6 separate regions of the Homo sapiens genome follow, and all the other regions are linked to region 5. Evidence: fine-mapped expression QTL. A gene starts in region 5. Each other region holds a variant in brackets. All regions are shown on one strand. Distances are from middle to middle.

What was found. PIP is the estimated chance that this variant, and not a neighbour inherited with it, causes the effect.
Region 1: its variant is the best candidate, but not a certain one, in a credible set for the expression of PLA2G7 in whole blood (INTERVAL, PIP 0.75).
Region 2: its variant is the best candidate, but not a certain one, in a credible set for the expression of PLA2G7 in whole blood (INTERVAL, PIP 0.68).
Region 3: its variant is the best candidate, but not a certain one, in a credible set for the expression of PLA2G7 in cerebellum (GTEx, PIP 0.77).
Region 4: its variant is the best candidate, but not a certain one, in a credible set for the expression of PLA2G7 in whole blood (TOPMed, PIP 0.62).
Region 6: its variant is the best candidate, but not a certain one, in a credible set for the expression of PLA2G7 in whole blood (INTERVAL, PIP 0.81).

Annotation. Positions count from the first base shown.
Region 1 is chr6:46,854,962-46,860,039 of GRCh38, forward strand. ADGRF5 (adhesion G protein-coupled receptor F5) reads right to left here. Exons shown (of 21, transcript NM_001098518.2): 17 at 3,168-4,562; 18 at 1,906-1,947; 19 at 1,757-1,816; 20 at 1,013-1,097. Among named protein-coding and RNA genes, the nearest start is that of ADGRF5-AS1, 46 kb to the right of the region's middle. The variant T/C (reference allele first, on the strand shown) is at 3,123.
Region 2 is chr6:46,594,860-46,599,937 of GRCh38, forward strand. It overlaps CYP39A1 (cytochrome P450 family 39 subfamily A member 1), which reads right to left. Exons shown (of 12, transcript NM_016593.5): 8 at 1,128-1,261. Among named protein-coding and RNA genes, the nearest start is that of CYP39A1, 55 kb to the right of the region's middle. The variant G/T (reference allele first, on the strand shown) is at 2,204.
Region 3 is chr6:46,677,919-46,682,996 of GRCh38, forward strand. SLC25A27 (solute carrier family 25 member 27) reads left to right here. Exons shown (of 9, transcript NM_004277.5): 9 at 1-272. All of the region lies in intron 1 of TDRD6-AS1 (TDRD6 and SLC25A27 antisense RNA 1), which reads right to left. It also overlaps a transcript of TDRD6 not described here. Among named protein-coding and RNA genes, the nearest start is that of TDRD6, 7.4 kb to the right of the region's middle. The variant C/T (reference allele first, on the strand shown) is at 2,089.
Region 4 is chr6:46,763,079-46,768,156 of GRCh38, forward strand. No RefSeq gene overlaps it. Among named protein-coding and RNA genes, the nearest start is that of ANKRD66, 19 kb to the left of the region's middle. The variant A/G (reference allele first, on the strand shown) is at 2,042.
Region 5 is chr6:46,732,911-46,737,988 of GRCh38, forward strand. It overlaps PLA2G7 (phospholipase A2 group VII), which reads right to left and starts at 2,465. Exons shown (of 12, transcript NM_005084.4): 1 at 2,270-2,465.
Region 6 is chr6:46,453,701-46,458,778 of GRCh38, forward strand. RCAN2 (regulator of calcineurin 2) reads right to left here. Exons shown (of 5, transcript NM_001251974.2): 2 at 3,052-3,278. The coding sequence starts at 3,276. Among named protein-coding and RNA genes, the nearest start is that of RCAN2, 35 kb to the right of the region's middle. RefSeq lists an enhancer at 4,773-5,078. The variant C/T (reference allele first, on the strand shown) is at 2,151.

The DNA of each region.
Region 1 (5,078 bases), 120 kb after region 5:
TGAAAAGCCTTCATCTGGAATATTGATGCATTTCTCAACTCTGCATTTGTGAGATCTGTTCAGTTCCAAAAAGCTAGAAGAAATCCTGGGGCTTATTTTCCTGTGAGGAAGGGATGATGGCATGGGGACAGGGGTTTCAATTTGCTAGAATAGCTGAGGTCTGTTGCCCAAAGTTATTAATTCCATTCATTTCATATCTCCAATGTAGAAATTTAACTGTGAATATTTTTTTTTCAGTGAGATACTGTGGCCTTTGCCAGTTGAATCAATAATAGCAGGGTTGACTGAAGTATCAGCAGCACCACCACCACTACCACTATCGGCGTCATCACGAATGCCGAGTAATTACTATAATCCATGTACCATACTAAGCACTTTATGTATATTTGCTTATTTAATTCTTACAACTCTATGAAGTCATAATTATTACCCTATTTTATAAATGAGGAAGTGAGTTCAGAGAGGTAATATTTCTAATAGAATAGCTAACTTGGGTGATCCCTTACGTAATGCATGCACAGTTCTATACGCTTCAATGTGTAACACAAGCACACTTTATAAAAAGAACAAAAAAGGAAAACAAACCTACATAGTGAGATCCTGTAGTAAGATTTTCTAAATGTATTCTTTGCTGCCCCATAACCCTGAAACATGACCTATCTACTCTTATCTAACATAATTTGAGAAGAACTCTGTGTTTGACAAGGCCAGCAATTTACAGTTCTCATTTTGATGGATGATATTTTGACAGATAGCTCTCCAAATCATTGTCTAGATTCTCCAAATCTTATTCTTTATGAGTTATTATAAGTTGCTTAGCAAAGGCAGCTGCCCTCTGTACCCACTTTTTGGTGATTTGTGAAAATGTAAGTTCCTCTATTTAACCTCTACCCCAAAAGAGGACATTTCAGGTAAATGCCATGAGCGGGGTGAAAGAGTAGGGGTGTTGAGGCTCCCCATTTGAGCAAATGTGTTCTGGACAAGCAGGGAGAAACTGGAGGCCACTACTCACCTGTTTTACCAAACAAATTGTTAAATCTCCTTGATATTGGAGAACTCATAGAAAACACAGGTGTGGATGAACCCAGGGATGTTGACTAGAAGAGAGAAAAAAAGGGACAATCACAAAGCAAATTTGTGGGACCAAAGCTGTTTCCATCTCTAGAAGGATTGATTTTCCACCCTCTAGTGGTCACTGCCGGAATCTCTAGTCCCACTCCCAGAGGTCACATTAAAATACTGGAATCTTATCATCTGTATTAGAAAAATAACTGTCAAATACAAGTTTTATTGTTTGTTAGGCTTCTAGCATTTTCTGACATGTGAAAGGCAGTCAGATATATCCAAGGGCAATAGTTGTGTTCCAAAATGAACTACAGAAAATTCTATCCATTATTATTCTTCAACTTGTTTTCTCTAATGCCTTGAATCCCCCCAGAAGATTGCTTCTCATTGAACGTTTGATTTCAACCTTAAGTTTATATCATATATTATTTTAAAACCTATTTAAATATGTGGAGTAGCATCTCAATGACAGCTCTATGGCTCTATTTAATAGACAGAATGACTTGAGAAGCAAAAACAATGGAATGATCTATGCCAAATACAGCTGTTGAGGGAGACAGGTTTGAGGATGCAATATATTTAGCCTAATTGATCAAAATCCCAAAGAAAAAATTTAGTACTCTGTACTTCAGAATGCTAGTGGAATACATGATGTTATAAAATGAAAAGTCTCTGCAGAGAAAAAGTTTACCTTTGAGTGCTGTGAAGACCATCTCGACAATGAAAACTTATTCAGCAAAGCTTCCTGTACCTGCATTGTTAAAAAGAAGCTATCGTAACTTCAACATGCCACAAGCACTTCAGACTTTTCTAGAAACATGAAACTGTCATTGCTCTTACCTTCAGATCCCAGAGGCATCCAAAGAGTAAAATGAATAATCCCTGAGAAAAAAAAGATTGAAAAGAAGTGCATTTTAATTATAGTCTATTGTCCAGCAAAGGAGGAAGTACTGTTAACCTGGTGTTAAATTTGTACTACTTCTTTTTCCTTCTGAGTTTATGGAATGAGTCCAGTACATGATACTGTTCAAAGACAGGCATTTGGTCCACACCAAGGGACTCTAAATGTTATGATGTTAGGAAGATATTTTCTATTTTCCAATTTTCCTTTAGTTGAAAACTGGAGGTCCTGTTGGTTATGCTATTAATACACCTCTTGTGTCTACAATATTCTTTACATAGCTGTGATAAGAATCTGGGCTATGGGGTGGGATAACTAGTTCCTTCCAAATGAGGCATATCATGAAGGTCATTACATATGAACTACATAGCTTGGAGACACAGGCCCAGTAGCAGAAATCAAGGTTCATATGTTCTTGGCACAAGCATCCTGAAAGCAGTATCTCGAGTGTGCCTCCAGCCTCTGCCTCTTCACAAGTTTACAGTGGCCTCAATCCTTGGGCAAGTTTTTTTCTATCCTTACCACCTCTCCATTGGGTGAAACAGAATTAATCACTTCCTTCCTTGTACTTTAAAGGCTTGCTATCTATACCTCTGTTATAGTTCTTCTAACAAACTGGCCTGCACTGTAGTTAGTTATGTGCTGCAGGAGAGCGAAGAAGATGTTTTTTCATTGTAGTATAATCAAGCAGATTGTCTGGCATTCACAGGACATTCATTCTCTGATTTTTGATGTTTCCAGAGAAGCTGCTATGTGGTACATAGGATTTATTTCATTCAAATGATTATTGAGAACCTACTCTGTACCAAGGTCTCTATCAGGCATAGAGGTATAGTGATGAACAAGAAAGGGGCAATCCCTGTCCTCACAAAGACAGGATTTTCATTTAGGAGATAATAGACTACATCAAGATAATCTTAGACAAATGGGGATTTTCCTTTTACTAGTGTAATCAGTGTATTTAGCAGAGACTGGCAAATGACACTAAATTATAATGTAGGTGATAAAAAGCATGAGGTGCCATAGGATCAGAAGAATGTGTCCTTTCCATCTGATTGAGTTCTCATTATTACTGCTCTTTAGAGCTGAGGCTTCCTCTGGGCTGAAATCCTTCCCCATTCCTACTCTTGTTTGTGTTTCTATCATTAATTTGTCC[T/C]ACAGGAATAAAATCTTCCTGAAAGCTCCGCACTGTAAAACTCACCTGGAAGACATTGAGGATGGCAAATATGATATGGAACACAAGGTTGGTCCCTGGGAACACAGTGGTGAGACCAAAACCCCAAGTGAGGCCCAAGAGTGGTGTGAGGACCCCAATGCTCTTGCTGATCTGAAACAGGCTGCTCTTCTCCTGCTTGCATGGCTTGTCTCCAATGGAAGGCCTCAGGATCTTGGTGATGACCACAATAGTGATGGTTATGTTCACCACCACAATGATCAGTGCTGGGATGGCGAAAGCCAGCAGGGCCTTGGTGTCCTCCCAGTTGAGCCAACAGACATTCTTCCTCGTATAGACTTCCCGGGGCTGGGTGGCTCCCAGCGTGATGACCGAGATGGCAAGTGGGCAGCCATAGCCAAGACAGAAGGCAATGGCTTTCTGAGTGGACCTGCTTGTTTCATGCAGAATGAAAACCAGGCGATAGAACAGCATGAGGCCCAGTGTCAGCATCCAGAAGAAGACGCTGAGGTAGAAGAAGTGGATGAAGAAGGTGGCAGCCACACAGGCTGTCTTGCAGAGTATGTAGCGATTGTCCTGGATGGCAGCGACCACAATGAACCAGGTGTTGGCGACCAGAAGGGAGGCAGCGATATTCACTATGCAGGTGTGGCGCATATAAGAAGTCCGGTTCTTGGTCACCGATTTCCACACCACAGCTTCCACAACTAGACAGGCTGCCAAGCTCAAGATGGAAAAGCCCACCCCAACATAAGAAATAATATCCAGGAGTATTCCCAGGAGAGAACTAGGATCTGGGGAGTCAGGGGACATGAGGATGGAGAATGATGTTAGGTGGTCACAGATACAGGTGACATTGTCCCCATCACCTTCTTCTACATAGCACCCACTGCTGTCCCACCCCCCTGTGTTGTTGGCAAGCCTGAAGTTCCAGAAGACACACTTCGTTTCGCCGCCTGAAGGGCTATTGTTCTTAAAAGTCATTGAAATCCTGAATGGCATAGTTGTATTGTGGCTGACAGTGGTTGTCATCACTAAGCTCTCTGCAAAGTTATTTTCCTGGATATCCTGGGCAAGGATGGCTTGGAGAGTTGGGAAAGCCATGGTGACAATAGACGAATCCGACTGCAAGTTTTCTAGATAGCTCTTGTCAATGACCACATTGCCCCAGAGGTCAAAGTATGGGAAAACAAACCTCTGTTGATAGGTTTCTGGGTGGCTGGACTTGATTACCATGCTGCTCATCTGCACATTAGTTTGGGAGAAGGACAAAGGAGGGCTATCTCCCGACTGTAATGCTTGGGAAAATCTTTCCACTGAATGTAGTAGCTGTGAACTCTGATTGGTCCATTGCTGTTGTAAAACCTTCCAGGTGTTCAAGACGGGCTTGCCAAGGATGACATTAACCGTAGAGAGCACGTGCTGAAAGTGAAATGGTATGGGGTCAAACTAACCAAATTCTTTCAATCATAAAAAAGAAAAAAACAACATCTTCCTAGAAACTGATTGCATAAAGGTAAGAGGAAATGAGAAAACAAAAATGAGACATCACAGGCAGTGGGGATGTATGACCTTCTTATGGCAGAGTTTAGCAAAGGATGGGTCCCCAAGACTGAAAGATGCCAGTAAGCATTTAGCAATGGTGACAGTGAGAGTCACACCCACTACACACCCTACTCTCTAAGGCCAATTCAGCAGGCTGGCAGGGATATTTACTATTTTATTTTATTTTATTTTATTTTATTTTAAATCTTAAGCCTATATTTTTAGTAGAGATGGGGTTTCACCATGTTGGCCAGGCTGGTTTTGAACTCCTGATCTCAGGTGATCCATCCGCCTCGGCCTCCCAAAATGCCTGTAATCCCAGCTACTTGGGAGGCTGAAGCAGGAGAATTGCTTGGACCTGGGAAGTGGAGATACATCTTTCCTGCTGTCCAC
Region 2 (5,078 bases), 140 kb before region 5:
CAGAATGAAGAGACAACCTAATGGGGGAAAATTTTTGCAGGCCATACATCTGACAAGAGGTTAATATCCAAAATATACAAGAAACTTAAACAACTCACTAGTAAAAAACAAAAACAAAAAAAATGATTTTTAAAAATTGGCAAGGAATCTGAATAGACATTTCTCAAAAGAAGGCATACAAATGGCCAACAGGTATAAAAAAATGCTCAACATTACTAATCATCAAGAAAATATAAATTAAAAACACAAGGATCTATCACCTTGCTCCTGTAGAATGGCTATATCATAAAGATGAAAGATAATTGTGGAAGAGGATGTAGAGAAAAGGGAACACTTGCACACTATCGGTGGGAATGTAAATTAGTATAGCCATATGGTAAACAGTATGAAGGTTCCTCAAAAAATTAAAAATAGAACTACTATATGATCTAGCAATCCCACTACTGGGTACATATCTAAAGGAAATGAAATCAGTATGTTGAAGACATATCTGCACTCCCATGTTTATAAAATGTATATATACATAATGGAATACTATTTAACCTTTAAAAAGAAGGAAATGCTCTCATTTGTGACAACATGAATGAAACTAGAAAACATTTTGTTAAGTGAAACAAGCCAGGAAGAATGACAAACCACATATAAGTGTATTTTCACTTATATGTTGAATCTAAAAAAAGTGAGCTCAGAAATAGAGTAGAATGGTAGTTACCGGGGATTGAAGGGTAAAGAAGGGGTGGAGGAGGACCTGGAGAGATATTAGTCAAAGGATACAAAACTTCAGTTAGACAGGAGGAGTAAGTTCAAGAGGTCTATTGTATAACATGGTGACTATTCCTAGTAATGACATATTGTTTTCCTGAAAATTACCAAGAGAATAGATTTTTAGTCTTCTTACACAGAAAACTGATAAGCAAGTGAAGTGATGCATATTTTAATTAGTTTGATTTAGCCATTCCATAATGTATACATATTTCAAAACCACATGTTGTACAAGACAAATATATAAAATATTTATTTGTCAAGTAAAAATAAATCAAGATATGTCAACCTGAAAAATATATGTGGGCAAAATGTGTACTTTTTTTGTAGAAGGTTGATTCATTTAAAACCAAACCAAAGCTTACCAAAATTTCCACAGGCTTCACCACTTTTCTAGTAATGACACCAGGAGCTTTTAAACGAATGGTTTCCAAAACACACCATTTAATTAGAAGGAGATTCTCCAGGTCATCCTCAGACACTTTAATCTTATCTTTGCCTGTAAAAAAATTTTTAATGAGAAATAAATAGACTACAGAGGTCAGAAAGTGATTTCACGTAAGCTCATCAGCAGAGGTTAGATGTTGCCTCTGACAGCAAGTAAAGTGTTCCTATTACTATTACCTATTACAGGTTTAGTCATTAATTGCCTCTTTTTCTTTATCACTTTTCTCTTGACAAGGTAAAATGTATGACACAAAAAACTAAGCCAATGTTGATTACTGTAATGTGATGGATTGGTATCCAACTTAGGTTCCCACAGTCTTATAGCTATCAAATAGCTAAGACAGTCCTTGTCAGAAAGGTTTTACTCATCTTTTTCTTGTCTAAATTCTCATTCCACTTATGTAAAAAGCAATAAAAGACTGACATCAAAAGCACAAAGAAAAAGATACGAGAAGCCATCCGGCCTTTTTCTTCTGCCTTTACCCTTTTGAATTGCTTTTTTTTTTCCCCCTAAATCATTCATTTCAAAAAAACAACTGGAAAAGGGGCAATGGGGCACAAGTATCTGAGCTGGAAGAATGAAGATGCCCTCTAAACACAGGTGCATCAAACTTTCTTAACGTGATGTGCATACTTTATTTGATCTTTAGACTGAAAGCACCTGAAAAAGGAGGGGGTGGGGTGGACGAAGGGCATCAACCATCAACCTTTGTACCATCTAAAGTAATGGCAGGAACTTTCAGTCAAATTAGACAGTTTAGTTAACAATATTTCAAGTAAAATGTTTGCATTTTGAAAATTACTTGAAACAACTGCGCTTTCAATTTGTTTTTGACAGTATTTGCTTAAGAAAAGTCAACAACAATATTGTCAGTTTAATTAAGTCAACGCATTTCTCTTTTTCACATTTGCTTTCAGACCATCTTGGGAATGAGTGGGTAAGAGTAGAACTAGGGTCTCCAGCCATGTCTCTCTTTGACTCTGGATGAGGCGT[G/T]TTCAAAAGCAAGCCCATTTTGCAGGAAAAGGTTTATTGGGTGCTGCCTGGGAAACCTTTTCTGTCAGTATAGATAGAATTCCTAAGGAGTCAGAAGCAAACACCTTTGGTTAGTGGAGTCTAGGAACCTATGAACTCCATTCAATCTGACAGATTCTTAAGTACCACGTAGGGACCAGGAGCTGAGACAGGCTGTACCAGTATTACAATAACTAAGGCGCAGCTCTTGCTTGCAATACACTTAGTCTACTAGGAGGTAAGAGACAAGCACACAGTTGACTAGTACAACATGTAGGCAAAGAAACTATTTTCTAAGATGTAAAATATTCTAAGGTAGTTAAAAGCAGATAGGGTTCACAGCTAAGGTAGTTTAAAGCAGATAGGGTTCACATCCAACTAGATGAAAAAGAAAATATTTTATGAATATATTTCTCTAAAACTACAAATATGATTAGTTTCTTGCATAGAGTCAACCCCAGTATATATATATTAAATTAGCAAATGGTCCAACTTCAACATAGGGAGGTGAATGGGTGGATATTTTAGGCAAAGAGGAAGAACAAAAGTAAGACTGCAGACAACATGAGTACATTTAGAAAATGGCAATGGGTCCAGTTTGCCCAGAAGGTGAGACATATGTGATGGAACAGTGAGAGATCCACTAAGGCCATACTACAGACGATCCTAAATGCCATTCTGGAACATCCGGAGGCTAGAGAAATTGGAAACTTCCTGTCTTAGGCTGAGGGAGTGTTAACACCTCAACAATGAAACAGTGATATACAGCACTATTCTGTATTAAATTAAGACCTTCGGCTTATTTGCTCAGATCTGAGCAATCTAATATTAAAAGGAGATAAGCACTTTTATGGGATTTTTGTTGTAATCTCTGCAGGCATTGCCCAACAAAACTGTTGGTTTTCCTTTTCCGTAACAAAGATTGGAAAACAATAAGTATGCCTTCTGCATCTTCACAACCTAAATGCCACAGTTTTTCCAAATTGTGTTCTATGAAATATTTGCAAGATGTCAAACGTATGAAGGAGGAAAAAGGTTCATGGGCAACCAAATACGAAAAATGCTACATGTTATTGGTGATTCACTGGACACATTAGTGTATTACAGGCTTTGAGAAATCCTGCAATAAAACAGTTATTTACACTGTTATTCTCAAACTTTTTGTAACATGGAATCTGTCTTCTACCAATATCCATACAAGCAAATCATTAGCTACATAAAAGATAACTAGCTATATAAATTAGGATACAGATTATTTCCAAGGCAATCCTCCGAAAAAGCAAACCAACCCTATTTTTAATGTCTGAAGATTACTAGCACATGGCATAAACTTTCGTGCACATGGCATAATCTATGAGTAGTTATTAAGAACTAAAACATGATCACCAACTGAAAACTGTCTTGATACACCATGGAAAGACAGGGGTACCATACATTTTACTTAGTTTACATTTTCCCCAAACTATCCCAACATTTTCTAAACTAATTCGGAAAAATAATTTAGAAAAGCCATGGTCAGAATTCTTTATTTGAAAAGTGGCTGAGATTTTGCATATGTAACAGATATCATTGCTAAATCAAATAGACAAATGTTTGGCATTCACTGGAGAATAAAGTGCTAAGGAAATATAAGAAATTTAAGTTTTGGAGATCTTTACCATCAAAAAGACTATAAGATGAAAAATTAAAGAAAGAATAAGTGCTTTGTCTAGACAATGTTAAAATGAGAAATCCTGAGGTTCTAATTTTTGAATTAGTTTATGAATGACACACAAACTTAGAGCAGTGCCCGGTATGTACTAAGTGTTCAGTACAAGGTGGTGCTGATTTACTTTTTATTTATTATTACCGTTACTATTAATGCGAATTTAATAATGACTCTTTAGAAACCACACCTTCCTATCTACTTTTACTCCATAGCTAATAAAGTTATTCTTTTTCCTGAAACCTTTATTGGGAGAAAATTTAGAGATTGGCGTGTGGGGTTGCATATGCAACACGAATTGGGGGCCAGGTCTGAGGAATTCCTTCCATTATTTGTTCAGTAGATATCTGCAGAGACTGAGACCCTACAGGTAGTTTGCAAGTGCTGAGTATGAAGATGTAGGTCATGTCTCTGGCTCTGAATAGTCTGATAGAGAAGACAGAGAACTAAAAGTGGTTAATGCAATAAGCGCTATCACATTAAAGTGTGCAACTCGCTATAGGAGCACAGCGGTGACAGTGACCAGACGGGGGAGGGAGGTGTCAGAGAGGCTTTTCAGAAGAAAAAAATCTGAAGAAAAAATCAGATACACAAAAATAAAGAGCATGTTCAGATAACAGGAATTCAGTGTGAAATAGAGTCTGGTGTAGCAAGTGACTAGGTCAATCAACTGTAGATGCAGATCAGAACAAGCTGTCGCACTGGTTCTTGGCGGTTTGGTAATGGATCCACCCTCTCTTCCAAGGGTGTTCCACTGAGGTTCCAGTCTGCTCATACCAGATGAATCCAGAGATGACAGGAGGTATCTTTCCCGCTATCCAACTTCTGAATGTACCCCAAGACTGCCAGGTGTCAGTTCTGGGCCCTCTTCTCTTCTCTACATTATCCTCCTGGGGGACTCAAACAAACCCTTTTCTATAAAATACCATCAGTGGGCTAGTGACACCCACAATAACATTTTTTGCCTTCATCCCTTTTGTGAGCTCCAGATTATTGTTATCCAGCTGGCTTCTCATTGGCTTTGTTTGCAGGTCTAAAAGGCATCTCAAAGCAACACTGGCCTACACAGAACTCTTCACTTGCCCCACTGAAATAAAGCCTTTCTTCCCTTGGTCTTGCCATCGCAGAAAATGGTAACAATGTTTGCCCAGC
Region 3 (5,078 bases), 55 kb before region 5:
AGTAGCTTATTGTTTTTCTAGTTGCAGAGAATGTGAAGTTTAATCTCTTAAAATATTTAGATGGTCTACTTTTTCATTGAATTTGTCAATATGTAATTGCGTTGTAAAATATTATATATATATATATATATATATATATATATATATGCTTAACTTCCCAAGTGTTCTGCATTGAACCACTTAGGGAAAATTTTGTTTGTTTTTATGTTTTGTAATTTTTAAAATTAAGTAAAGACTGGATCAAAATAATTGCATCCAACCTGGACCGTGAACAATTGATTTAGCTTTATTCTTTGTGGGGTCGGGGAGTTGGGATGAAAACACTGCTTACGCACTGACATCATTCCTTGGGATCTGGATCAACACGAATTTCAGGAACTTTTAACCTGAAATGACTCCTTGGGATTATCTAATTTAACCTTCCCATTTCACATGTTAGTAAACTGAGATTCAGAGAAGTAGAGTTGTTTATGCTCATGAGTGACTTAGTAGCAGAGCCAGGATAAAAACACAGTTCTCCTAATATGATTATTATGACTGAGAGTTATTGTTCACTAATTAGGTACCAAGGAAGGGTCTTATGTCATGGTCACAACCCAGTAGAGTCTTCTAAAAACAGATTTTTCCTTATGGCATTTTTATGTCTCATACATTTTAGATGAATCTGAATTGTCTCTAGCATACATTTTAGAATGGAGTCACCATGCTTTAGCTTGAACATGAAGACCTTCTATAACCTAACCAAATCCAGTATACCCAATACTTATCCAATCACATTCATAATTTTCTGGTGAAATCATATCTACTGATTATTTTGGAACATTGCTTATTTTTGCCAACTTGGAATCATCTTGTTTTCCAAAATAATCCTCAGTAAATAAAAAGGATTAAAAATTTCAGTAATTTTTGTGTCCATACTCACAGACTTAAGAATTCCAAACTCACTTACTTATAGTACTACTCTATGTGGTATTTCTCTATTTTTTCTCCTCTCAAATGATTTTTTTCTTACTGAAAATGCATATACTTATTTTTAATTATGTAGTTTTTTATATGTATAAATGAATTAGTATATATAATTATAGACTAAATTTGCCATATATGATATAAATTATATATGAATTAATTTATATATAATTAAAGGGATAACATTTATTAAGTTTGCTTTCAATATGGAATAACATGTCTTTTTCAAGTGCTCCCAATACTATTTGATTGTAAGCTACTAGTGGGTAGGTATACATCTTCCATTTTTATATAAATCTCTGCTCTCTTTAGTAGCATTTCTTTGCTATTAAGAAAAAATGATTACAGCTACGTATAACATGAATCAATTAATTTTATCTTTATTGTTTTAAGAATCTGTGACTGGCCAGGCATGGTTGCTCATGCCTGTAATCCCAGCATTTCGGGAGACCGAGGTGGGCGGATCACGAAGTCAGGAGATCGAGACCATCCTGGCTAACATGATGAAACCCGTCTCTACTAAAAATACAAAAAATTAGCGGGGCGTGGTGGCGGGCGCCTGTAGTCCCAGCTACTAGGGAGGCTGAGGCAGGAGAATGGCGTGAACCCAGGAGGCGGAGCTTGCAGTGAGCCGAGATCATGCCACTGCACTCCAGCCTGGGTGACAGAGTGAGACTCCATCTCAAAAAAAAAAAAAAAAAGAATCTGTGACTATCATATGAGTCTGCAATTTCTCTTTTACTTTGCTAATAAAAAAATAAAAATTCAGGACAATATAAATATGAAAGGATTTGTTATTCAGTCATCTTCAAATTTTCAAGCACATTTATTTACAGTTGTTATAATTACATATATTTTTTCTATTAATGAAAACAAATTCCTTCAGGACTTTCCTAGAAAAAATGGTCAATTTTAATACTTGATGGTTAAAACAATTTCTTTGGAAAGGAAAATAAGTAATTCTTTTCTTCCCAATTAAACTGAGACTCTTTAAAGATGACTACCCAGCAAATATATATTATTATTGAATGTCAGATAATGTGGAAGAAAGACTGAACCCAGAATCTAAAGATCTTTATCCTATTTTGGGTTCTACTTCTGACAGAAGAGTATAACTAGGAT[C/T]AAGTCCCTCCACTTCTCTGAATTCCCATTTCCTTAAAAGCTGAAGTGGGACGGGCGCGGTGGCTCACGCTTGTAATCCCAGCACTTTGGTAGGCCAAGGCGGGCGGACTGCCTGAGCTCAGGAGTTCAAGACCAGCCTGGGCAACACAGTGAAACCCTCGTCTCTACTAAAATACAAAAAATTAGCATGCGCCTGTAGTCGCAGCTACTCGGGAGGCTCAGACAGGAGAATTGTTTGAACCCAGGAGGCAGAGGTTGCAGTGAACTGAGATCACACCACTGCACTCCAGCCTGGGCAACGGAGGGAGACTCTGTCCGTGAAAGAAAAAAAAAAAAAGAAAAGCTGAAGTGATTGAACTCTAGAATCTTAACCTGTGTATACCTAAAGGGAGCCATATTGATGTGATGTTTAAAAAAATAGAATTTTAAAAATGTCATTAGGATTCTTTATGCTTGGGTTTATATTCTCATATTTCAAGATGGGGAAAAATTATTCAGACCTTAAAGTACAATACAGACTTCTGACGTGTCTGGACTGTCACCCTGAAATCCATTCTTCACAGGGAAGCACAGTCGTCTTCCATGGGGCAACTTTGGGCATATTCTCACCTTCAATTTCTCCTATATACACACATACTAAAAATTAAAACCTTTAATGCTATATCCAAGACCCTCTCAACCTGACTCCAGCCCATTTTTCTCACTTTTACCTTTCACTGCATACCTGTACCCTACCTCCTTGGAAATGCATTGCTCTAATTATTTCCCTGGAGATGCACTATACTTGCTGCTTTTCTATGTAGTTTATTCTGTTCCCTCCATCTACCTTTCTTCCCACCACCACCACCTATTCATCTTTATTTGTATTGGTTAAATTCTACCTCAGTTATCTAAAATAATCACCTACTATTTCCTCTCTGAAGCCTTCAGTATCTTCAGTACCCCCTTTCTCCCACTGCTTCCCCTACTACATAGATGTACATATCAGCGTCCCCTACACAAAATGTATTGCTTGAAAGCAAGGACCATGTAACACATCTTTGTATCCCTTACAAACTTCAAATAGGAGCCACTCTGAAGGTATCTGTTGAATTGAGAGGGTTTTTTGGAGAGTGGGGAGAAAGACATTTATACACATGATTAAATCATTTTGTTCTCTTCTTCAGAATAATTATGTTGGGTCAATAACACTTCTGATTTTATGAAATTTTTTACCATATTAAATGCTTAATTATGTTTTTAAATGATCATGTGTGTTTAAAACATGTCATAATTTTAAGGATCATCTTCATCTGTTTAATAGCTATTCCATAAAATTGAGAATTTGATAGTTTTAAATAATATATAATTGACTAACAGTTAATAAATATGTGATTTTAAAGCATGTATGGAAATTATATCACTATTTGGCCTTCATTGATGCCATATACATGAACATTTTACCCACTCAAGTGTTTTATTATTTCTGAATTTTGAGGAATACATTACTTTCTTCTCTCCCCATACTTTACCCCCAACAGGCTGCTGTGATTGTCAACAGCAGCAGGAGCCAGTTGAAGGTTTGATAAAAGCAGATGAAGATGCTTAAAGATGTCTGTTTGCTGAAAATATCTGGTAACAAACAGGAATATATGTGAGTAAATAAACTGTGTTATTCTGATTTTAAAAGTAAATATTTTAAAGTGCCTAATTGCTTGTTATCACGGGTTTTGTTTTGTCCTGATATAGTTCTGAGTTAAGAAGGTAATAACAAGGAAGGAAATACATGCTACAGCATGGATGAACCTTAAAAACATTATGCTGAGTGAAATAAGCCAGGCAAAAGTGAATACATACATGATTCTACTTGAGGTACTAGAATAATGAAAATTCATAAAGACAGTTTCGAATAGTGGGGAGGGAATGAGGAGTTGTTTAGTGTGTACAGTTTCAGTTTGGGATGATGAAAAAAATCTGGAAATGGATAGTGGTAATGGTTGTACAACAATGTGAATATATTTAATGCCACTGAGCTCTACACTTTAAAATGGTTTCAATGGTAAGTTTTGTTTTACGTATATTTTACCACAATAAACAGAAAATTTAAAAATCCATGTACGTAGATGTGAAAAATATTAGCAAATTGAATCCAGCATCATATAAAGTATAATACATCATGACTAAGTGAGACTTATCCTGGGAATACAAAATTGGTTCAACATCCTAAAAAATCAATATAATTCATCCAATTAACAGAACAAAACAAAACATATATCAACAGAATGTGAAAAAGTATTTGATAAAATTCAACAGTATTTGATGTAAAAATTCTCAAATTTTTACATGAGTAAAAAAGAAACTTCCTCATCTTGATAAAAAGGATCTAAGTAAAACCTGTAGCTAACATCGTATTTGTGAAAGACTTTCTCCTTAAATCAGGAACAAGGCAATATCAATTCTTACCATTTTATTCTAATCTGTACTGAAGGTCTTAGCCATTGCAGTAAAGCAAGAAAAGGAAATAAAAGGCACATATATTAGAAAAGAAGACATGGAACTGCCTTTATTCACAGATGATATAATTACATATATAAAAAAAATCCCAAGGAATCTACCAAAAGCTACAAGAATTAATAATGAAGTCCTAGCAAATTCACAAGATATAAGGCCAATATACAAAAATATATTTTGGTATACTGGCAATGAAAAACTAGGGACTAAAATATTTAAAAATTAATATTATTTACAATAGCATAAAAACATTAAAAACTTAGGGATAAATCTAACAAATGTGTACAAGATTTGTTCACTGAAAAATATAAAACATTACTGAGAGAAATTAAAGATTTTAGTAGAGCAATGAACTGTGTCCATGGATTAAAAGACTCAGTATTGCTCCAAAGTTAATTATTGTCAAATTGATCTCTACCTACAAAGCAATTCTAATAAAACCCCAGCAGCCTTCAAATTTTTTTGCAGAAGTTGACAAGTATATTCTAAAATACATATAG
Region 4 (5,078 bases), 30 kb after region 5:
AGGCCTGAGTAGACTGTGTGCTCCTGAGGGCACTTTATTCAACTTTGGATATCTATTTCTTAGATCAGTAATTATAAATGCTTGCTAAAAGAAAATTTAGAAAGTTACAATCAAAATATTAGAAGATGCCTTTATAAATGAGAAATCAAAGCTGTTAAGGGTTGAATTGTTTCCCCCCCTAAATTTATATGTGAGGTCCTAATTTTCAGTTCCTCGGAAAGTGGCCTTATTTGAAAATAGGGTCACTGGGGGTGTAATTAATTAAGTGGAGTGGAGTTGAGTGGGCCTCTAACCCAGGATGATTGCTATCCTTATGGAAGGAGACACTAACTGAGGAAAGAGGATGTGAAGAGACACAGGGAAAAGATGGCCATCTACACACCAAGGAGAGAGTTCTGCAGCAGATCCTTCCCTCACAGCCCTCAGAAGGAAACAGCCCTGCCAACACCTTGATTTTTGAATCTCTAACTGCCAGAACTATGATGAAACAATGAATTTCTGGTTTAAGCGACCCAGTGTGTCATACCCAGTGTGTGATACTTTGTTATGGTAACCCTAGCAAACTAATTCAGAAGCTACTGACTCTTGGCTCTGAGCTACTTCCATTATATTACCAAGAGGGTGAGTAGCACTATGTATGTCCAGGGCTCTTCTGCGTAGCATTTACATGTTTACTTTGGCCAGTGACTGAATTATATGGAAATACTTTCTTGTCCATGGGAAGATTTTTATATCTTATTTTTAAAAACCAACCTTTACTGTGGATTCTAAGAACTGTACCACAGAACACTGCATTCAGGGTATGTCTCCATGAAATAAAAGCAGCTAGTTAGAAACATTAAAAATGCAGGCAACAATGTTATTGTTTAGTACTTATATTATCAAAAAGATTGGTGGGATCTATTTTGCTTAACAATACCCCTTATTGGTCATTCCTTGGGAGAGAATCACAAATACCCTGATTTCAGCCAAAAACATTGTTAAAATTTTTTCTTATCAGTTTTCAGACCTTAATCCTTGAACTTCGGAATTAACAACCTTTTATTTTCTGTTTCTGTCTCATATACTCCCTTGGCAGGCAATGTTATTTTAAAAGTTCCTGAAGAGAAACATTATAAGTAAAACAAAAAAAGCATCTAACAAAAACCAATTTAACCAGATCACATATTTCACGCTAAATTTTTCTGTAACACTTAAAATGATTGATTCAGTTCATCTTCTTATAATATTGCAACACTGATTTGGGAGACAATGATATCTTGACTCCTGCTTTCCACCCTCCACATTATTAAGTGAAGAGGAGAAAAATTTAGAAGATAAAGTGACTACAATGTGGATTTTAAAATCTCTCAAGAAGGAGACCCTTAAAACAACCTCGATCGGCCGGGCGCGGTGGCTCACGCCTGTATTCCCAACACTTTCGAGGTGAAGGTGGGCGGAGCATGAGGTCAGGAGTTCAAGACCAGCCTGGCCAATATGGTGAAACCCTGTCCCTACTAAAAATACAAAAACTAGCTGGGTGTGGTGGTGCGTGCCTGTTGTCCCAGCTACTTGAAAGGCTGAGGCAGAAGAATCGCTTGAACCTGGGAGGCAGAGGTTGCAGTGAATAGAAATTGTGCCACTGCACTCCAGTCTGGGTGACAGAGGGAGACTCGGTCCCAAAACAACAACAACAACAACAACAAACAACAAAAAAAAACCCACCTCGATCAAGAACAATACTAAAACATAAGGCTACAATTTTCAGAGAAAAGACAGATTTCTTTAAAAAAAAGTTAATAATAAAAATTATGAATAATTATATACATTTTTTTCTGATCCCAATTCTCCAATCTAATTTCATTTCCTAATACTCCGCTTTGTACACCCCTGGTGCCTGCCAAGCTGGGCTGCTCACTGCCTACTGATACCTACCCTGTGTGCTGTTCCAAACATGTTACCATGTCTACTCAACAAGTTTTTGAGTTAGTTGTTATTTTAAATGAGGACATAGGGGTTCATAAGGTTAGGTAATCTGCCCAAGTCACACAACCAGCAGAGG[A/G]CAGAGCTGGAACTTGGACTTAAGCTCCACAGCCTGGCCTCACGTCCGCGTGCTACACTGCCTGTCTGCTCTGAGCCCTGGCTCCTGTCATCTCTGCTAGACACCCTCTGTCTTCCCTCCTGCTTCTCCAAATCCTATTCCTTCTTCAGGGTCTACCTCCACCAGAAAGCCACTCAGAGTACAAGGCCCACTCTATTTAGTCCTGCTTCGGGTTCGAAATAAACTTCTAATGAGATAGTTTCCTTTTCTTGATTGATTCATAGATACCACTTTCCTCTGAGTTTGGGTCTTCTTTAAGATCTCTAAAAAGCAAGGGCTCTGCATATACTTCTTTTGTTTCTCCCAATGGGCCTAGGTAGTCCCATGTCATGCTCAATATACATTTCTTGACTGAGATTGAGTCATCGAGTATTTTCTAGATAAGGGTGAGGAATAATTTTTTTTCCCCTAAAACTGAAAAAACCAAATAAAATCCTCATTGAACCTAAGCTAAAGTATTTAAGAAGTTAAGGATGGTTTTCTCAGCAACCTGGAGAAACTTGACCTTTTTGTTTTCCAAGCCTGGCCTTTCGAAAGTGGCTCAAGTTGAATTTTAACTCAAGTTACTGAAGTGGTTGCAGTGACAAATAGTAGAAGCTTCTTTTTACTGAGCATCAGCCATGTGCATGCCAGGTATTTTGTATCAATCTCTTCAAAATGTCATACTTAAGTAAGGGTTTTTACAGATAGAGAAATGCAAGTTTAATAAAGTTATTTGTCTGAAATCAACCAATAGTTTATTTTTATTTTTTATTTTTTTTGAGACAGTCTCCCTCTATTGCCCAGGCTGGAGTGCAGTGGCATGAGCTTGGCTCACTGCAACCTCTGACTCTCAGATTCAAGATATTCTCCTGCCTCAGCCTCCTAAGTAGCTCAGACTTCAGGTGTGCACCACCACACCTGGCTAATTTTTGTATTTTTAGTAGAGATGGGTTTTCACCATGTTGGCCAGGTTGGTCTTGAACTCCTGACCTCAAGTCATCTGCACCCCCCTCAGCATCCCAAAGTGTTGGGATTACAGGTGTGAGCCACCATACCCAGCCAATCAATAAATTATTAATGAAAGATTGCAAACTATAGCTGCTGTGCTTGATTTTTTTTAGCTCATTATTTTATATTCTCCAATGCTGCCTTTTTTGGATTTAGATGAATTCCCTTAGTTCTCAACCTGCATCTGGAATGTTTCTGGGAAAACTACTTAAAATTTCTGATCTCAATTTTCTTTTTTATATTGTTTTCACAGTTGACATGATGTCTACTTAGAAAATCCCAAAAACATCTGGAAAAATAACTGCTAGAACTATTTGGGCCACTGGGTTGCAAATACACCAGTGATGACCTTAAAAGAATAATAGTTCAAAATGACCAACATAAATCAATGGTTCTTAATAGGGAAGACTGACCTTAATAAGCCAAACATCTAATTTTTTGCTTAGGTCTAGAATTACATCAATCCAGTGAGATAACCCTCGTTCTTTTATGGTAATCTGATTATGGTGACTACAAATTTGATAAAATTTTTGATTAATAAAAATGGAGAAATCTATAGATATTAAAAGTAGCAAAATAATACTATGAAAAACTTGATGCCTACAATTTGACAACTTATCGGAAATGGGAAAATACATTGAAAGACATAATTTGTCAAAGTTTACTCATAAAAAATTATCTATTTTAAAAAATTCAAATTCTAGTTAAAAATAATCCAAGATGGAAAACTTCAGGCCCAAGTAGCTTTACTGGCAAATTCTACCAACCATTTAAGGAAAATACAATACCAATTTTATATCAATCCTTCCAGAAAATAGAAGAGGGAGGAATGCTTCTAACACTTGTTATGAAGCCAGTATTACCCTGATAACAAAACCAGACGCAAACATCACAAGAAAACTACAGGCCAATATTTCTCATGAACACAGGTACAAAAATATTTAACAAAATGCAACAAATCAAATCCATCAATATATAAAAAGATAATACACCATGGCTAGGTAGTATTTTTTACCCCACGAATGCCAGACTGGTTGAACATTCAATAATCACTCCTTGTAATTCTCTATTTAGTCTATCAACAGACTAGAGAAAAGAAACCACATGAGACATGAGAGAAGCATCTGAGAAAATTTAGTAAAATAAAATAAAAACACTCAGAAAACTAGAAAAACCTACTTCATCTCATCTATCAGGAGAACCATAGCTACTGTAGTGAGTGGTAAAAGACTGAATGTTTTCTCCCTAATATTGGGAACAGGACAAGGATGTTCTTTTCTCCATTCCTATTCCACATTATACTGGAGGTTCTAGCTTGTGCAATAAGATAAGAAAAAAAAAGCTGAATAAAAAGAGACTAAAATAATCTCTGTTCATGGATGACACAATTGTTTATTTAGAAAATTCCAAATAATCAGAAAAGAGAGCTACTAGAACTAGTAAGTGAAACCAGCAAGGTTGCAGGACACAAGTTCAATATAATTAAAGTCAGTCCTCATTTCTATATATTAGCAAATGCACTACTGGTAATTGACAAAATGCATAAAATGCCATTTATAATAGTACCCAAACTACATGAAATACTTAGAGATAAATTTAAATATGAGCAAGGTTAGTATGCTGAAAATTATAAAACTGATGAAAAATCAAAGATCTAAATAAGTGGAGAGATACAAATGCTCATTGACTAGAAGACTCAATATTGTTAAGATGTCAGTTCTTCCCAAACTGCTGTATAAATTCAATACAATCCCAATCCAAATACCAGAAGGACTTTTTCTTAGAAATTGTCAAGCTGATTCTAAAACTTATGAAGAAACGTAAAAGAGCCGGAATAGTCAAAACAATTTAGAAAAAGAACACTGTTCAAGGATGCACACTACCTGATTTCAAGGCTTATAATAATAATCAAGATAGTGTGATGTTGGCAAAAATATAGATACATAGATTTATGAAACAGAATACAAAGTCAAGAAATAGATCCCCACAAAGATAGTCAATAGATTTT
Region 5 (5,078 bases):
TGCTTTTATTTTATGGAAATTTCTCAACATCTTGAGACGTCAGTCAGGCTTATTATCACGAATCTTGAAAAAAAATTAGGCTTAAGAGGAATCAGAGTGTAAATAATCCAATATCCACCTTCCTTTCCAGGAAATAGCCATCTTCTTGGGTATCAGGAAAAGGAAGATAAAGGGGACTCCTAAACTGACTTTCCCAGGGGCTCCCACTCCAGCTGCTCAGGTACCCAGTTAGCACTTTTCTTAATGTTCTGTGCTGACAGAGCTTCAAAGAGTGTGGTAAGTCATATTCATGTGCAAAGGTGAGAGTGAGGGAATGTGTTTAGGCCCATGTATGTTCCTCACAACAAAAGTGCAAAGGGGACAGAGACACAATGGAGAGGAAATGAGGACCCAGCTGTCCCAGGTTCTGTCTGAGGGAAAAGTCCTGCGGTGCTAAGCAAGCCCTTCCACACCTCAGAAGGGATTTCTCAACTGTAAAATGAGTGGCTGAACCAGATTCACAACACTCCTAATGCTGCAACTCCTTCAGTCTTGCTGGCTGTACAGTAGGCAGTCACAGACTATGGTGCCAGCCTTGGGTATGAAGGGCCCAGTTCAATGAAGAAAGACATTGAGACATCACCACATGGCCAGCAGCAGCTTCTGGTGCACAAATATCTGGGGAGGGGAAAGCACTTTCAGTGCCCAAGTGCAAGGAGCTGAAGTAGGCCTGCTGGAAAATGCCAAGGTGGTGCGCTGTCTCACCACTTTCTGCAGGGCCAGCAGAATTCCTCTGTGAGGGAATCTGCCTGGGTGATGGAGGCTCACCAGTGCCTCGTGACCAGAAGGCCATCTGCTTCTTCTTGATCAGGCCAGTGCTTAATGCTCAGATCTCTGAATTCAATGTAAGCTCAAGGTTTCGTGCTGAGCCTCTTGGGATTGCCAACACCTCAGGGGATACATTTTCCAGCTCCTACCCATATACCAGTCTCCCAGCTCAGCATTCTCATTTGGATCAAAAGTAATTTGTGCAAGCCTGATTTGTTAACACATCCCAAATCTGAATCCGTGTGCCTTTTAAAGGTGGCAAGCTGCCATTTATGAGCCATACGCACCTCTCCTTCCTCATCACCACTGCAGTAATCCCAAGAACCACAGGCATGAATAAAAGCCCGAACTTTTCGTTTTTGGTGACAGAAATTTCTCTTACAAGCTCCAGGAGATGATGAGGAAGACAGTGTTCTCTGTTTTCTGATTTTGCTTAATTTTTTAAAAATGAGCCTCTCCCTTGACTTGGTGACACAGCTGTGATCTTATCTGGCCGGCAGGGGGATGCTCCAGGTAGGACAAAGAGTGCTTTGTTTTGTTCTTACAGCAGCCACGCATAACTGGGCTCCAAAAACGCAATACTCCTCAAAGGGAGAGTGAGAGAGAGGGAGAGAGGGAGAAGGGTGTGTGAGAGAGAGAGCGGAGGGAGAGAGAGAGAGGAGGCAGAGTGAGAGGTGTGTAGTGGTGTGTGTGTGTGTGAGAGAGAGAGAGAGAGAGAGAGAGAGAGAGAGAGAGAGAGAGAGAGAGAGAGAGAGAGAGAGAGAGAGAGAGAGACGGAGAGAGAGATTGTCCCTGTAGGAGATCTACAGATAAGAAAACTCCGGGGCGGGCGCGGTGGCTCATGCCTGTAATCCCAGCATTTTGGGAGGCGGAGGCGGGCGAATCACGAGGTCAGGAGATCGAGACCATTGTGGCGAACACAGCGAAACCCCGTCTCTACTAAAAATTCAAAAAAATTAGCCGAGCGTGATACGGCACGCCAGCAGTCCCAGCTACTCGGGAAGTTGAGGCAGGAGAATTGCTTGAACCCGGGAGACAGAGGTTGCAGTGAGTCGAGATCGCGCCTCTGCACTCCAGCCTGGCGACAAAATGAGACTCCGCCTCAAAAGAAAGAAAGAAGGAACGAAAGAAAGAGAGAGAGAGAGAAAAAAAAGAAAAGAAAACTCCATGTGTTCCCTGCCTGTCCTGATTCTCCCCCCAGCTCTGAGCTCTTAGGGTTGCTTCCTTTCGGGAAAAGGTTTGGAAGAACTGGTGTCTAATACCGTCATCCTCTCCCTCTCCCCGCAAGGATCCTAGCGCTGTTTCCGAGGGCTGCAGGGACTGTGAGCCCAGGACCGGCCAGCAGAGCGGGTGCGACTCAGCGAGCCCACCCCGGCCGGTCGCCGCTCCGGGGTCCCGACCTCCAGCGCGGCGACCGTGCCCTTCCTCCCACTCCCGCCTCGCCCCCGGGGCCCCTCCTCACTCAGGCGCGGCGCGGAGCTGCTCGCGGGAACTGGGGTCCCTGGGCGCGTTCCACCGCGCACCAACGCGACCCAAGCGCTCCAAACCCGACTGCTTCTCGCCGACAGCACTGCGAGCCTCCGACCAGCCGCTGTCCCCCTGGCTGCGGGCCGAGCAGCTCTGGCAGGCGGCGGGCGGGTGGGCTGCGCGCGGGCTGTGTCCTGGGTCCGCCTAGCGCGGCCTTGTGGCCCCGACCCTCTCCTCCCCTGGTGATGCTGGAGGAGGTACCGGGGAGGAGCGTGTGTGGCCCCGGCCTCTCACTAGCAGCGGCGGCTCCCGACGCTAGCCTGCTCGAGCGCACCCAGCACCCTCCCCAAGACCATGGCCCGCACCTGGACCCGCGGTTAACTTAGCCCGCCGCGGAGAGAGCCAGGCAATGCCTGGGTGGTGTCGTGCTCACCAGCTCCTTTCCGCAGACCTGATGCCGATCAGATTTACTCCCTGCTGAATTCACCCCCCAGTCAGGCCGGTTTTCCTTGTTTCACCGTGTTCTCTGAATACACTGAATTACTCCGAGCATCTATAGTTGGCAATGCCCTGCGCATTTTCCGCACTCCGATACACTTTACACTGAACACCAATTCGGAAGTTGTGTGGACCGTGCTCCAGATTGGAAGGCCTGCCACTGTGCTGGTGTCATTTCTCCCTGGAAATGACAATGAAGGACAATCAGGAATAGCACTTAGGTCTGAGGAGAAATGGAGCTAGAAGGAGCCGTTTCATAGCTCAGTGTAACACAGAGTTATTTGGGGTTTAACTGAAACGCCTTCCTTCATCTTCCAATGTTTTCTCTTCAATCCACTTTCTAATAAATTAAAAACACACTCATTTAAAACTTCAGCTAGAAACTTAGGGAAAGTAGTTTGAAATTTATGTGTGGTGTTATTAAAATTTTATATTTTTAAATCGTGTTTTGGTTTTTGGTGAGGTGCCAGAACTGGAGATGAAATTTTGCTTATTTTGATTTTGAGTATTCTGCAGTAAGATGGCCTGAATTTTAGCTTGTTTCTCCCACTTATGAGTGGTGTGACCTTGGGGAAGTTCATCATCTCTGCTTCTCGGTCTCCTCATCCATAAAATCAAGAAAATCAAAATCAGTCAGTCAGAGGCAGTTTGTGAGCACGAAATGCAAATACATGTGAAATGCTTGGGACAGAGCTTGGCCTATGGGAAACATTCATTCAATATGTGTTATCTAATATTGATAGCTTAATGAAGCAGTGACTCATTTAAACCTAACAATAGATTTTATTTTTAATTTAAATGGAACTCTATCCGCCTAATGACATTGTCTTGTACTTCCTGGACTAACCCCCTGTAAAACAAATGGCCCACAAATATCAATCTAAAAGGATACATTATGCCCTACCAAAGACATCTCTAACGTCTTCTTTTGACCTTAAGACAAAGGTGAAGACAAAGTTGAAGTTGAAGACCTAATCCCACACTAAAAAGGTGGTAAGCTTTGAGAACAGCTCCTGAAAACAAGTATGCAACATTTTATTCACTTCTCTCATTGCCAGCAACATGTCATCTCCCATTGTCATTAGGTCATATTCTCTGAGCAGCCCCACAGCAGTTGGCATTTGGCAGGTTAGTGCCCTGAGAAGATGCCCAGTGAAGAGTGCCCAGATTTAGCAAATAAAAATGCAGAACATCTGGTGAAATTTGAATGTCAGATAAACAATAAATAGTTTTTTAGTATAAATATGCCCCATGCAATATTTGGGACATATACTAAAAAGTTATTTGTTGTTTATCTGAAATTCAGATTTAACTGGGCTTCCTGTATTATATCTGGCAACCCAGTAAGTAAAATTAATAAAGAATATTCCTCACATTCCAAGAGGATAAGTCAACACAGACATACAGATTATAAGGTGTGTCTGATATGGGTTGTTTTAGTTTTTTATGAGTTGGTTCTTTGTTATTCTGTTTCCTACATTTAATTCCTCCTCTCATTTCCCATTGACATAACAGTACCTATTTCCTCTTTAATATGAATGAAACTGATGTCTCACCTCTTCCCTTCAATCAAGATATTAAATTGTAATAATGTGCTCAATTTCTTTTTCTTTTCTTTTCTTTCTTTCTTTTTTTTTTCTTTTCTGGAGATATGGTCTCACTCTGTCACTCAGGCTGAAGTGCAGTGGCATGATCACAGCTCACTGCCGCCTTTACCTCCCAGGCTCAAGCAATCCTCCTACCTCAGCTTCCCAAGTAGCTAGGATCACAGACACATATCACCACACCTGGCTAAATTTTTTATTTTTATTTTTTGTAGAGACAGTGTCTCACTATGTTGCCCAGGTTGGTCTTGAACTCCTAGGCTCAAGCGATCTTCCTGCCTCAGCCTCTCAAAGTGCCAGGGTTACAGGTGTGAGCCACTGTGCCTTGCCATGCGCTCAACGTTTTTTTTTAAATTTGAATAGTGTTTACTGAGGTGAGGGCCAGCTGTATGTCAGGTACCATTTCAAGGATGAATAAGACACAGTCCTTCCCTGGAGGATAAGGAAATAACAACAAAAAGTGCTACCCTATTAGGCAAATACAGAGGACTGTGGGAGTTCAGCAAGGTGAGTTATTTAATTATCCTGAGAAAGATGTGGGAGTCAAGGACACCTCACTGTCTGGGACCCAAAGAAAAGTGGCTCCAACCGAGATAAGCAGGAGAGGTCCCAGAATGGCAGCAGTGTGGAGGCTAGGAAGCAACCCATCCTGATTGCAGTAGGAAGTCTGGAGGGAAAAATAGGGTTCAATACAATTGAAAG
Region 6 (5,078 bases), 280 kb before region 5:
GGAAAATAGAGAAGAGAATGCTGCAAGACTCATTTGTGATAGAAAGCAAAAGGTTTAATTCCTACCCAACTATGGAAGTTAAATGTATACTTTATAATAATTGCAAGACAAAGGCTAAACTTAAATGCATCAATATCAAGACACAATGATTTCAGAAGCAGGCTGTGCCAAAAAAGAAAAGACTCTGCCAAAACAAATTACATATGAAACCACCGACCCTCGTAAACCTTGGAAATGAAGGCTAAGCATCATTTCTGATGTCTCCACCCCCTGCTATAATTCCAGGCTGCTGAATACATCTTCCCAAAGCCAAATATAAAAACAATTACCATGGCCAGCCTTGCCCATAGGCCAATACAAGGAGTGCTGGAAATGCTTTTTGCTTCTTTTCCCCCTGCCTAAAAATATCTCCCCACCAACTTATCACAGTGCCTAAAATGTCCACCCTTTGTGGAAAATACCCATCATCAGACTTCATGGCTCAGATTCACGAAACCTAAACCTTGTGGAAAGAATATTCTGACAGAATGGAGTATGATACTTAATGTCTTAAAATAAGTGATTTTATCATAATAGTTTTTTAAAAAGGAGGTTAAATGAAAGAAATATGAATTTCTGGGTCTGGAAGAGAAATATGCAGTGAAAATGAGATGCCACAAGACTCCCCACTTTTTTTTCTGGAGTCCCAGCAATCATGCCTCCTGGCTATTGTCAACTTATCTGGTATCTGATTATCTTGTTTTGTCACCTTAAACTATATAGATATAATTAAGTCAAAATTAAATCCATGTCAGATTATTTGGTATCCTAAAGACTGTCCACAAAAGGAAGAGTAAAAAAAGAAAAAAAAATCTTGCTGAGGTAGGACACTTTCTGATTTAATAAACTGAATTACATAGACTTCAGCCAATTATAAAATTCACCTCCATGGCTGTAAAATGGTGATCTAAATCATTTGAAACTGAGTGCAATTAACTATATTCTTGTTTATTTTGCCTCAATATTTTATCAAGGTCATCCTAAAACCAAATACTATTTCCCAAACTGCTATGCACAAACTTCGTATACACATTAGATGAGAATATCTTGTAATCCTTTATTCAATCACAAATCAGAATATCAAAATAGATGTGTACAGACTCCCATGAACTCCCCCCTCCAGCCCCTGTCCTTCTATGTCCTCAGTTCTAATTCAGTTAATCAGCCATTCTTGAGCAGCACTGCTAAATGAGATTAGCACCTTCCTAGGCCTCATTGTTTCAGTCTACTGGGAAGTATTTAATCAGGAAAGAATGAAAACCCTCATTAAATCTCTAAGGAAAATCCTTCTAATTGTGATATTTAGAGAAATGGATGATATGATGAGAATACATAGACTGTTGCTTTATAGTTTATGGCAGGTATATTTCAGAGGAAACTACTTGCCCTGAGAAAATTATCATTTGTGATAATCTGGTTATAATCCAAGAACAAAATTCTCAGTTTCTTCCAAAGAAGAAATTGGCATGTGCCACTTTCTTACTTTAAATAGTCTGATGATCATAGCACTGGAGGTTCTAATTATATATAATTCCTTGTATTTCAAGCTATTTTCAGCCCATAATTTCAACAGTTCAACTCCACACTGATATCATTATAAAAATATCTTTAAATGGCTTAAAATAATTCCTAATCCTCTGGGATGGTTTTGTCTGTGGCTATCAGGATTGTCTACAAAATCAATCATATCCGTAAATCAGACTTCCAGTAATTATGCCAGACACAGACTTCAGCAATGGGCAGAAAGAGCTAAAGTCTGTGAAACAGCAACCATAAAGCCTACTCTTATACCTCACACAGAGTCATATACTTTAGTTTAGAAAAAAAAAAGCCTCAGCCGGGCGCAGTGGCTCACACCTGTAATCCCAACACTTTGGGAGGCCGAGGCAGGCAGATTACGAGGTCAGGAGATCGAGACCATCCTGGCTAACACAGTGAAACCCCATCTCTACTAAAAATACAAAAAATTAGCTGGGCGTGGTGATGGGCGCCTGTAGTCCCAGCTACTCAGGAGGCTGAAGCAGGAGAATGGCGTGAACCCAAGGAGGTGGAGCTGGCAGTGAGCCGAGATTGCACCACTGCACTCCAGCCTGGGCAACAGAGCGAGATTC[C/T]GTTAAAAAAAAAAAAAGAAAGAAAGAAAGAAAGAAAAAGAAAAAGAAAAAAAAAAGGCCCTTTATCCAAAAAATTTTGTCCATGTTTCAGTAGTATAATAGTGGCTTTTACAACTAAGAATCTACATCTACAAGGGAAGGTTTAATCCATTTAGATACCCCATTCAAAGGTCAGAGAAATCTGAAATAAACTTTGGAAAGGTCTCCAAATGGAATATTTACTGTGATTGCCAAAAACATTTACACTAAGTTAAGTCTGTTTCTTAAAATGGGAAGCTGGAAAATGTTAATACATAGACAACCTCATTCCCCTATCATTTCAAATTGAGGAGTTGCTGCTTCATTCAAATTCTTACAACACACACATGGCAATACCACCATGGTATCAATGAGCAAAGAAGGACTCAGATGCCAACCAACTTACCTTCTCTAATATCTACTGTGAGACTTGGCTCACAGTTTAAGAAGGCTTTTTTAGAACATTCGTCAAGCTGCGGGAAGGCTGGAGGTAAAATGGAGTTTGTATTGTTTTGAGAAAGGCAAATTATATTTATGGCAGAATAGAGGAAAAGGAAACTTTTAGGAGTTTAAGACATCTGCTTCCTAGCCTAAGGGGCATTTCCTACAATCCATATTAACACCATTTGTTTTGCTAGATAGACCTGTGAGTCACAGAGGACTCAATTTGATTCAACATATTCTCATCTACAACCCTGTCAGATGTATCTCTAAAGTTAGTTGATAATAGAATGGGATTTTCTTATCCTGGTACACATGCCAAAAATAGAGCCAACTAAACATTTCCAAAAACTTCAAAACACCAACCACAAATGAACAACAGGATTACTTGGAGATAATGCCATATCTCCCCATGTTTTAGGAACAGAAAAAGGCAGCTTACCTTGCTCTCTTCTCCTTCAAACACTGACTGGTGAACATTGCACGCAAACAACGAGTTGGGGAGGTCATTGAAGTCAGTGATTGCTTGAAAGGCTTCTTCTGCAAAACAACGAGTGACAGCCCAGTCCCTGTCTATGCAGCACAGTAAGAAAAGTCCTCCATCTTCAGGGACGTGTCCCTGCTGCCCTGGGCTCCTCATTCCGATGAAGTATGATTCTCCCCTCATTCCTGGGGATACAAAGATGAGCATGTGTTACTGCAGAACAAATTCCTTAAAACTCAGTTTTCGGGTCACAGTTTTGTATTGTCAGGGGCAGAACAGTGGAGTACGATTAGGAGCAGAGGCAGGGGATATTGGAAGGGAGAAGATCTGCAAGTTCACATGGTTCCCTTGATCCCTGAACCAGAATTTCCCATACAGCTCTGCTCTGGGGCAAGAACCGAGTCAGTACTATGGTTTTTTAAAACAAACAGACAAACAAATAGGTATAGGAAATGGAGATCACCACCACTACTACCAATGTCTATCGTGTATTGAGTTCCAGGCACTATTCTAAATGATTTATATAAATTTAGAACATCAATTACATACATTAACTACCTTATTTAATCTCCACAATAGTCTATAAGGTTGGTACCAATATTTTCCCCAATTTACAGATGGGAAAACAGGAAGAAAGCAATTAAGTAACTTTTACAAGACCACTGACAAAATGGCAGGGCTAGGATTCAAACTCAGGGAAACTGGCACCAGAGCTCACTCTCCTATGCCACAGGAATGAAGCAGATCAAAATAAGTAGAAGCCTATATTTAAGAAAGTATGATCTACTTCATCAGCACCTGAATCCTGATCATGATAACTCTAACAGGTAATAGTTCATCCTGTGAGAGTACAGTGAGAGTAAACACACCACACACACACACCTCCCAGATATTTCCTCTTCTGACTGAGATAATTACTTCAAGTCATTTGTGAACCAGGTCCAGATCCTAAAAAAATCAGTGCTATCTTGATCAATCCATGGTGCACAGGTCCCCGTCCCTCCTTGCCTTGTAAGGCTTTCCAGTATTGATTTCACCTAGCTGTGTTCAACCCTTCTATTATTTTTTCACCCCTTATATTTGCAGTTTGCCTAACTGCAGAGTTTTTCCATTTTTTTGATACTGGTACATAATTTAGTGGATTAGGTCAGTATCCCCATATAGTCCAAGGCTGGTATCTACTTTCTTCTTTTGTACCGATTTTCATGACTGTGATACTATTCTGCTCAAAGCTCAATAGTTAAGAGGCTCGGAAAGTGAAATAACTTGCTCATGGTTACGCAAGTAAGACTGACTGAAAATTATGACATGGCTACTGAATCATCTTCAGGAAGCTCCATGTTCTTCAGTCCCATCATCACAGATGCTCAGAGCAAAGGACAGAAAGGTGGGTACCACTAAACATCAATCTGCTCTCATGAAGTTTAGCTAGATACAAATTCCAGATCCCCAGACAAAATATCAGTTTCTGCTTATCTCTCTCTTGAACTGTGAAATAAACCCTTGAACCTCATAGTGATGAGGTTATGTTTTTTATTTTCATTTTTCCTAGAAAAGCCCCAATGAGAGTTGGTAAGCAGCATTTTCTGGCAATAATGCATTACATATAAAATCTTAAGCCCGGTTGAGGTAGGAGCCAAAAATTAAATAGTTTGAGGTGATATCTCTAAAATCAAATCATCAAAATTGTGGTAAGTAAAAATTTCTATATAAAATATAATAAAACAATTCTTGCACTCCAAAGTTCTTCAAACTCCAATTAGCGCATTTCCATATTTAAATCAACAAAATACTTATTTTAAATAAAAATATGGTACATGTTTTATTAAATAATCTAAAATATATGAATATTTTTAACTAGAAGGAAAAACATGTAATAGCATTAATATAAAGGGAATTGAACTGCTAGACAACTTCAATGAAACATGTGCATGTATTTTCTTTCATATTTATTTATACTGTTGCTTGAATATTTTAGCATAAAA